2 linked regions of the Homo sapiens genome follow. Changing the gene in region 2 together with the main gene of any one other region gives a genetic interaction. Each region holds a gene or a part of one and is shown on either strand. Other genes may lie near its edges.

Region 1 (3,500 bases), on a different chromosome or scaffold from region 2:
CCAGGCTGGAGTGCAGTGGTGAGATCTCGACTCTCTGCAACCTCCGCCTCCCAGGTTCAAGCGATTCTCCTGCCTCAGCCTCCTGAGTAGCTGGGATTACAGGCGCCCATCACCACGCCCGGCTAATTTTTGTATTTTTAGTAGAGACAAGGTTTCACCATGTTGGCCAGGCTGGTTTCGAACTCCTGACCTCAGGTGATCCACCTCGGCCTCCCATAGTGTCGGGATTACAGGCGTGAGTCACCGCGCCTGGCCCCCCAGCTGTTTTTTATGCTCCATGCTTGGGCTTCCTGTTAAGAATTAAAAAAGAAAAAAAAAACTATGGAGATGGAATTTACATACTGTACAACTCATTCGTTCACAGTGTACAATTCAGTGGCATTAAGTACATTCACACGGCTGTGCAACCACTACTTCTAATTCCAGAACGTTCGGTCACCCCAAAAGCAAGCCCCATTCCCATTGTGTCACTCTCCATCCCCTCCACCAGCTCCTGGCCACTCTGAATCCACTTCCTGGCTCTGGATTGGCTTGTCCTGGATATTGCATAGAAATGGGATCCTGTCGGCCGGGCGCGGTGACTCACGAGAGCAAGAGATCCAGACCATCCTGGCCAACATGGTGAAACCCCATCTCTACTAAAAATACAAAAATTAGCTGGGCGTGGTTGCGGGCACCTGTAGTCCCAGCGACTCAGGGGCTGAGTCAGGAGAAATCGCTTGAACCCGGGAGGCAGAGGTTGCAGTGAGCTGAGATCATGCCATTGCACTCTGGCCTGGCGACAGAGTGAGACTCCGTCTCCAAAAAAAAAAAAACAAGAAATGGGATCCTGTCATCCCAGCGTTTTCCGAGGCCGAGGTGGGCAGATGACTTGAGCCTAGTAGTTCAAACGAGACCAGCCTGGGCAGCACGGTGAAACTGTCTCTACTAAAATACAAAAATTAGCTGGGCATGGTAGCACACGTCTGTAGTCCCAGCTACTTGCGGGGCTGAGATGGGAGGATCGCTTGAGCCTGGGAGGTGCACTCCAGCCTGGGCGACAGGGAAACCCTGTCTCAAAAAAAAAAAAAAAAGTGCATCACACACTGTGTGTCCTTTAGTGTCTCACTGTGACATCCTCAAGGTGCAGCTAGGCTGTGGCTCGAGTCAGAGCCTCACTGGTTTTTGTGGCTGAGTCTTGTTGAGTGCGTGGATGGGCTGTGCTGATCCTCGTCTGTGGAAGGGCCCCTGGGTGGTTCCACATCTCGGCTGCTGTGCGTCCTGCTGCTGTGAGCATCTCGTGCTCCGTTTCTGCGTGGCGTGTACTGTTCCTCAGGGTGTGTACCTGGGAGTGGAGCTGCTGGCTCACAGGGTAACAGACCTTTGGAGAAGCTGCAGACGCTTCCACGCCCACCCACTGGGTGTGAGGACCTTGCTCCTCGTCATTTTTGTTTTTGTTTAATTTTTTCTTTTATGAGACAGGGTCTTATTCTGTTGTCCAGGCTGGAGTGCAGTAGCACGATCACAGGTAACTACAGGCTCAAGTGATCCTCCCACCTGAGCCTCCCGAGTAGCTAGGACTTGAGGCACGTACCTCCACACCTGGCTAATTTTTGTATTTTTAGTAGAGACAGGGTTTCGCCGTGTTGCTCAGGCTGGTCTCGAACTCCTGAGCTCAGGTGATCCACCCGCCTCGGCCTCCTATAGTGCTGGGAGAAATGAAGTGTCTGCGACAGGGCGGCAGCTGCAGAGGGGGCTGTGCTCTCTGGCCTGTTGTGCCCCACCCTTGTGACAGGCAGGTGGGCGTGGCCAACTGGGCGGCAGCTGCAGAGGGGGCAGTGACAGGCGGGTGGGTGTGGCAGGACCCCACAATGTCTCTTTCTGTGGCGTCTCCTTCTTCGCCTGCCCCTTCCTATGGGCCATCCTTCCAGCTCACCTGCGGCCCACCCTCCAAGGAGTGGGACCCTCGGAGTTGGGAGCCCTTGGCTGCGTGGGACTGTACTGTGTGACGGAGCCATCACCAGGGCTCCAACTCACCCTGGCTCCTGCCACAGTCTGGGCTCCATCTGTGCTACCATTGCAGTAGTCTGGTTTCTAGGAAGCAAAACTGTTACTGAGTTACAAAGCTCAATTAAGAGTGTCCTTTGGGAGGCCGAGGCGGGCGGATCACAAGGTCAGGAGATCGAGACCATCCTGGCCAACATGGTGAAACCCTGTCTGTACTAAAATACAAAAAAATTAGCCGGCTGTGGTGACACGTGCCTGTAGTCCCAGCTACTCGGGAGGCTGAGGCAGGGAAATCACTTGAACCTGGGAGGCAGAGGTTGCAGTGAGCTGAGATCGGGCCACCGTGCTCCAGCCTAGGGACAGAGCAAGACTCTGTCTCAGAAAAAAAAAAAAGTGTCCTAACTGTGTCCTCCAAAGCCCTCGCCGGCCGATGACAGACTAGAGGGCGCTGTGCTCCCACCCCCTACCGCCCTGAGCCTGGACGCGTGGCCCCTGCAGGGCCCTTTCCCACAGCACTGTGAACTCACAGCTTCTCTCTAGGGAAGGGAGGAGGTACGCCACTTCCACAGGGAGATGGGGAGGCCGACTCCAGGGATCCAGGCCATCATCCTGACGTTGGGTCGGCTGATACACCCCTGTCCTCTCTGTCCCAGGGAAATTCAACTACTGAGGAGGTTACGGCACAAAAATGTCATCCAGCTGGTGGATGTGTTATACAACGAAGAGAAGCAGAAAATATATCCTTTCCGGTGTTGGGACCGCGGGGCCTCCGTGGGAGGGGCTGGGGCCCTGGGTCCGCCTGCCTCGAGGCCTGCTCCTCTTCCCGTCTCCTTGAAGGAGACTGGCACACGAGGGCCGTGGCCTTCCCTGGTTCCCCGGAAGTCAGCCATTGTGGCAATGGCTGCGCAGCTTGCTGAAAGGGGCCCTGAGCCCTGGCCCCTGTGTCTTGGGCCCGTGGGGTGTCAAGTCCCTTTTTTCTCAGAGTCTCCTCCCAGGCTAACCAGGGGTGTAGCCACGGTCTGCCTGAGACAGGCCACGCGGGCTGACCGTTGTGGGCCATTTTGGTCGTGGCTGGGCGTGTCCTCGTGTCATCTGTGGACACCCCCATGGGTCTTACGGGCACAGCCTCCCTACGGGGACTTTGCTTCCTAAGGCCCTGTGCCCAGAGCAAGAGCCAGAAGTGGTCCTGAGGCTGGGGCTGTGTTCCCTGAGCCACGCGGTCAGGGGCCCTGGGACCGTCCTGCATGGGCCCGAGCCTGCTTGGGGGGGCGTCCAGGAGGCACCATCCCCCGCCCATGGGCAGGGTGGGGGACGTGAGCCCCGCAGGAACGCTGCCCCAAGAGTCAGCCCTGTCCTCCCCTTCCCCGTAGGCTCCTTCCTCCTGGGACGCTGGGGCCCCTGGGCCTTTTCAGAGGGGTGGCTGAGGGCAGGGTGGGCCCTGGTCCCGAGGAGGGGCAAGGTGGGTGCAGAGGGTCCCTCCAGAGCCCCTTTTCTGGCCCCCGTGCTCCCTGGGC
Region 2 (5,606 bases):
GGAGGGGCTGCAGAGAAGGTCTCTGACATGCTCTGGAGACATTTTCCCCATTCTCTTGGCTATTAACATTCGGCTCCTTGTTACTTATGCAAATGTCTGCAGCCAGCTTGAATTCCTCCCCAGAAAATTCTTTTCTATCACATCTTCAGGCTGCAAATTTTCCAAACGTTTATGCTCTGCTTCCCCTTTAAATTTAAGTTCCAATTTCAGATCATCTCTCTCAGGCTCAAAGTTCCACAGATCTCTAGGGTGGGGCAAAATGCCACCAGTCTCTTTGCTAAAGCATAGCAAGAGTGACCTTTGCCCAGTTCCCAGGAAGCTCCTCATCTCCATCTGAGACCACCTCAGCCTGGACTTCATCGTCCATATCACTTTCAGCATTTTGGTCAAAGCCATTCAACAAGACTCTAGGAATTTCCAAACTTTCCTACATCTTCCTTTCTTCTTCTGAGCCCTCCAAACTATTCCAACCTCTGCTTGTTACCCAGTTCCAAAGTAATTTCCACATTCTCAGGTATCTTATATCAATGCCAACTACTTTGGTACCAATTATCTGTATTGGTCCATTCTCACACTGCTATAAAGAAATTACCCATGACTGGGCAATCTATAATTATAGGAAAGAGGTTTAATTGACTCACAGTTCTGAATGGCTGGGGAGGCCTCAGAAACTTAGAATCATGGTGGAAGAAGGAGAAGGAGAAACAAGCACCTTCTTCACAAGGCGGCAGGAGACAGAATGAACACAGGAGGAACTACCAAACACTTATAAAACCAGCAGATCTTGTGAGAACTCCCTATCATGAGAACAGCATGGGGGAATCCACCCCCATGATCCAATTACCTCCACCTGGTCCCTCCCTTGACCCTCCCTGGTCCCCAAATATAATTGGGGATTACAATTCGAGATAGATGTGGGTGGGCACACAGAGCCAAACCATATCAGGAGGTCTCACTAAGTGGCCCAGGCTGGTCTCGAACTCCTGAGCTAAAGGGATTCTCCTGCCTCGGCCTCCCAAACTGTTGGGATTACAGGCGTGAGCCACCACGCTCAGCTAAAGAGAAAGTGCTGGGTAAGAATCAAATACATGGCCGTGTGCCAATCCTCAAGCGGGGTGGGGGGGAGGGGGGAATGGCTTGAGTCCAAGAGTTCAAGACCAACCTGGCCAACACAAAAAGTCCCCGTCTCTAAAAAAATAAATTAAAAAAAAAAATCAAAGATATATTGAGAAGTGATTTGGCACGATCACATGCACACTGGTTTTTATTGTATTACAATATTTGTTCACACTACTAGTGAAGTCAGAAGAATGTACAACCATTAGGAGGTAGTAGAGCTCTGGTGGAGAGCAAGACGTGGCTTAATTATTGCCGCTCTTTGTCCCTGTGGCTTAGTTATTGTAGTTCTGTGTCCCCAAGGACTATCAGGCCCTAAGAGACTTGAAGTAACCAAAATACACATGCCTGAGGCAGACACCAGAATGCTAACATATTAACATATAGTGAAAGGCATCACTGACACACACATCAGAAATACATGATCTTGGCATCATGAGTCCACAGAATTCCTCCTTGTCGTCATGCAGACGGGGAGGCCATAAAGCATATTCTCTCCAGAAAAGCACACTTTCCCTGGCTAAGGTTGCTTGGTGGGCAAGAAACTTTTTTAAAAAGAAGTGTCAGGCCAGGCGTGGTGGCTCACACCTGTAATCCCCGCACTTTGGGAGGCCGAGGAGGGGGTGGATCACTTGAGGTCAGGAGTTCCAGACCAGCCTGGGCAACATGGTGAAATGCCGTCTCTACTAAAAATACAAAAATTAGCTGGGGGTCGTGGTGTACGCCTGTAATCCCAGCTACTTGGGAGTCTGCAGCAGGAGAATCGCTTGAACCTGGGAGGTGGAGTTTGCAGTGAGCCGAGATTCCGCCACTGCACTCCAGCCTGGGCGACAGAGTGAGACTCTGTGTCAAAAAAAAAAAAAAAGAAGAAGAAGAAGAAGCATGTAGTGGCATAAGAGGGTGGATGCACCCATCTCTTCAAATACTGGCTTCTTCTGTGGAACTAGAAATATCTGAAGTCTGGAGAGAACAGTCCTGAAATGGATCACAGCAAAGCCTACCTTCCTCCTCTAAGCCTCTTCTCCCACATGCCCCTCACCCCCCATATTCTGTTCTCTTTACTCTCTAGCATTGTCTAGTTGCCCAGCTGCCACTTGGTCTCCAAACGTCTTTTTTGCTTTAGATTTTTTAGAGATAGGGTCTCACACTGTTGCCCAGGCTGGAGTGCACTGGCACTATCACAATAAACAGCTCACTGTAATCTTGAACTCCTGGGATCGAACAATCCTCCTCCCTCAGGCTCCTGAGTAGGTAGAACTACAGGCATGCACCACCCCACCTGGTGAATTTTTTCTATTTTTTATAGAGACAGAGTCTTGCTATGTTGCCTAGGCTGGTCCCAAACTCCTGGCCTCAACCGATTCTCCCACCTCAGCCTCCCAAAGTGCTGGGATTACAGGTGTGAGCCACTGTGCCTGGCCCAAGCCTTGTTTTGGATAATTTGTGATACGCATCTACTTTGGTACAAAGTAGATATTTATAAGTGTTATATATTTCATACTGGGAAATGATGTTTGATGAGAACACGGACACATAAAGTATACCAAATCTGAATTAAAAGAGTACTAAATTCAAATAAACTTAAGTAACAGTGAGTCCATAGATTTTGCACGGTTATGCTAATAGCATGGGCCTACCCCATGGCACACTGAGAATCATTACAAAGCGCAGAAGGGCTCACAGTGTCCATTTACAGGGGCTAAACTGACCAGAAAGGGAGAAAAAGGAGATCGGAACCCAAAGGCAGCAGAGGAGACCCTGAAAGAATGGGCTATCGCTGAGATTCTGACTTTAGATGACTCCAGGGTTTCTCTCCTCCTGACGGCCTCGGGCCTTTCTCCTTCCAGTGTCATTCCAGCCCCATCCAGGTGTGCTCTCCTCCCGAGGCCACTGCTGGACAACTAAGGTCCGGTCCACCCTAGCACCAGCCCTGCATTCTCCACAAGACCTTTTCGGACTATTCCGAGGCCGATTCGATCCTCCGTTTCTCGGAGAGAGCTCTGAGCACTTTGGCTCTAAAATTTCAGGCAAGATCTGTCTTCCTCTAACTCCAAAGTAAATAGCTGCAGTCGCTCTCCAGGCTTAACCTTGTCCATATAGCAGCGGTCAATCTGATCGCTCCTGCGCTTCCCCCAGGACACGGATCCCACCGCTTTCTCCACCCCCCAAAACGCTCCCGGGGTCCCCAGGACACCGCTTTCTGCAACCCCGTGTAGGGCGCCCCTACTTCAGTCCAACGCGCGGCTCCGTCCCACCGCGAGCACCCCTCAGCTCCGGAGTCCCACCCCGGAGCTACCCCGGAGCTACCCCGCGCGCCCCCGCGTCGCGACGCACGTGCTCCCCGCTCCCATTCATTCCGCCCACTGCTGTCATTGGAGCCGTGACCTCTGAGCCCCGCCGGGCGCGCGCCTCCCAACCTCACCTGCGCGCGGACTTCGGCAGCGGCGCTCGGCCCCAACGGTCCCGCACGGCCGGGGGAGCCGGGCCCGGGGCTCCGCGCCGCCGGCTTCCAGGAGCAGCCGCGCCGCCACCGCCACCAGCGCGAGGCCATGGTCGGAGTCTGAAAGTCGCGGCAGGGCGGCGGCTCCGCCTCTGGCCCGCGATCCTCCTCCCGGGACCCGGAGCCGGAAACCTGGCACAGGAAGCGCTTCGGCCAGGCCCGGGAGCGCGGTTCGCTCTTCCTCGCTTGCGGTCCGGCTGCCGGCGCGGACACTTCGGGTGTCTGCCCGTCTGCAGCCAACGGGGACTGCAGCCGCTCCCGGGAGGCGACGGGGCAGGGGCGTGCGGAGACCTGGTCTGGGGACCCCGAGCGTAACCTTCCCCGGGGCGAGCCTCCTATCCCCACCTCTTCCCGGAAGCTGTGCAGGGAGACTGGCCACGCCTGCAGTCATAGCAAAAATGTCCCTGTGGGGACCTTTTATTAGCAAGAAATACTACCGCGCGCCACCCTTGCAGCCACGAACTCTTTTGTTCTGCGTGTTTAGGCAGAAACATAACTCAGAGAATGGGGTTCCCGCTCCGCAGCCTAAGCCGGAGGCGACGGTTTCCGCTGCTGCTTCCCTTGGCAGTGACCTGACACGCCCTGGTCGGCTGCCTTTTGCAATCTGTTCTTGAAGGAAGTTCCAGCCCATCGCATCTTCCTAGAAACAAGTCCGACCACGATCAGGGTTGTTGTGAAATAGTAGCTAAATTAGCCGGGTCTCGTGACTTTTGGACTCTCCCCTCCAAACGCCTTATAGGTATAGTTTGGCAATCTTGCTCACACCTGGGTGTGAACCTGCGTGTACCCAGCCCGGGAGATATTGGAGTCTGTACAGGATTAGTACCCCTTATGGGTTAGAAAGGCCTTCTTTCCTTAGCTCTAAGGCCAGATCTACTGGTGCTAAGAGACAGCGTGTTCCGAACAGAAATTAAGTGATATAAACATTCAGCGCATGCACTCAAACACACAGAGCCAGTGAGATAGGGGGTAAGCATTAGAGATAGAGAAATGCAATTTAGTCCTCAAAAAATTCACTCTAATGAGGAAATAGACCAGCAAGTAGGTAATTGCAGTTCTCTGATTCATGTATTTTCTTGTTCTTGGGTTAAAGAATGCGGTAGCCTCATAGCTGGGTACATTAATTTCATATTTAATCGTGTGGATTTTTTATGGAATGAAGACATCATAGACTATATAAAGACATCTATGAAAATAAGCCAGTTTGATGGTGTTTTTTCCATCTTGAAGAATAGTATGTAAAAATATGCAAAGCTTTATGAGTAAAGATTGTTAATATGCACCTGTAGCTTATCTTGGTTTAGATTAGGTTTATATATTAAGAAACATTCATAAGGTGGAATTTGCCAAGTAGAGTGTAGCAGTAAGCACTTGGGTTGTACTTGATCCTATGACTAAGACATTATCATTTGCCCTTTTTTGTATATAAAGATAAGGAAACATATAGAGGAAATACCGTATGGTCAAATAAGTATCACACTCAAGCTCACCCAGTTGTCAAGTATGTCACTACACAATTTTGTCAGACCATGTTCGTTTAGAGATTGCTTGGCCACATTAAAACAGAAAACATTGCTCTTAAAAAGATGCTGTAGGTCGGGGGCACAGTGGCTCAGCCTGTAATCCCAGCACTGTGGGAGGCCGAGGCAGGTGGATCACTTGAGGTCAGGAGTTTGAGACCAGCCTGGCCAACATGGTGAAACCCGTCTCTACTAAATATTCAAAAATTAGTTGGGCATGGTGGTGCATGTTCTGTAATCCCAACCACTTAGGAGGCTGAGGCAAGAGAATCACTTGAACCTGGGAGGCAGAGGTTGCAGTGAGCCGAGATTGTGCCACTGCACTTCGGCCTAGGTGACAAAGTGAGACTCCGTCTTTAAAAAAAAGAAAAAGAAAAAAAGATGCCGTAGTATTGCAAGGCTAAGTAGGGACAGCAGCTGAAGTTCCTCAAGACTTCCAACGTTACTGTATAGCTAAACTCTTGAGAAAA

Evidence for each region.
Region 1: changes in PDSS1 (region 2) and STK11 together harm fitness more than expected from each alone (negative genetic interaction), as found in Homo sapiens cells (one large-scale study listed by BioGRID).

Annotation. Positions count from the first base shown.
Region 1 is NC_000019.10:1,215,778-1,219,277, forward strand, and holds part of STK11 (serine/threonine-protein kinase STK11), read left to right. Parts: intron 1-490; exon of another isoform or gene 491-621; intron 622-2,639; coding exon 2,640-2,723; intron 2,724-3,500. UniProt on the Homo sapiens protein: Tumor suppressor serine/threonine-protein kinase that controls the activity of AMP-activated protein kinase (AMPK) family members, thereby playing a role in various processes such as cell metabolism, cell polarity, apoptosis and DNA damage response.
Region 2 is NC_000010.11:26,695,773-26,701,378, reverse strand, and holds the start of PDSS1 (all trans-polyprenyl-diphosphate synthase PDSS1), read right to left. Parts: upstream 3,679-5,606; 5' UTR 3,668-3,678; coding exon 3,539-3,667; intron 1-3,538. UniProt on the Homo sapiens protein: Heterotetrameric enzyme that catalyzes the condensation of farnesyl diphosphate (FPP), which acts as a primer, and isopentenyl diphosphate (IPP) to produce prenyl diphosphates of varying chain lengths and participates in the determination of the side chain of ubiquinone.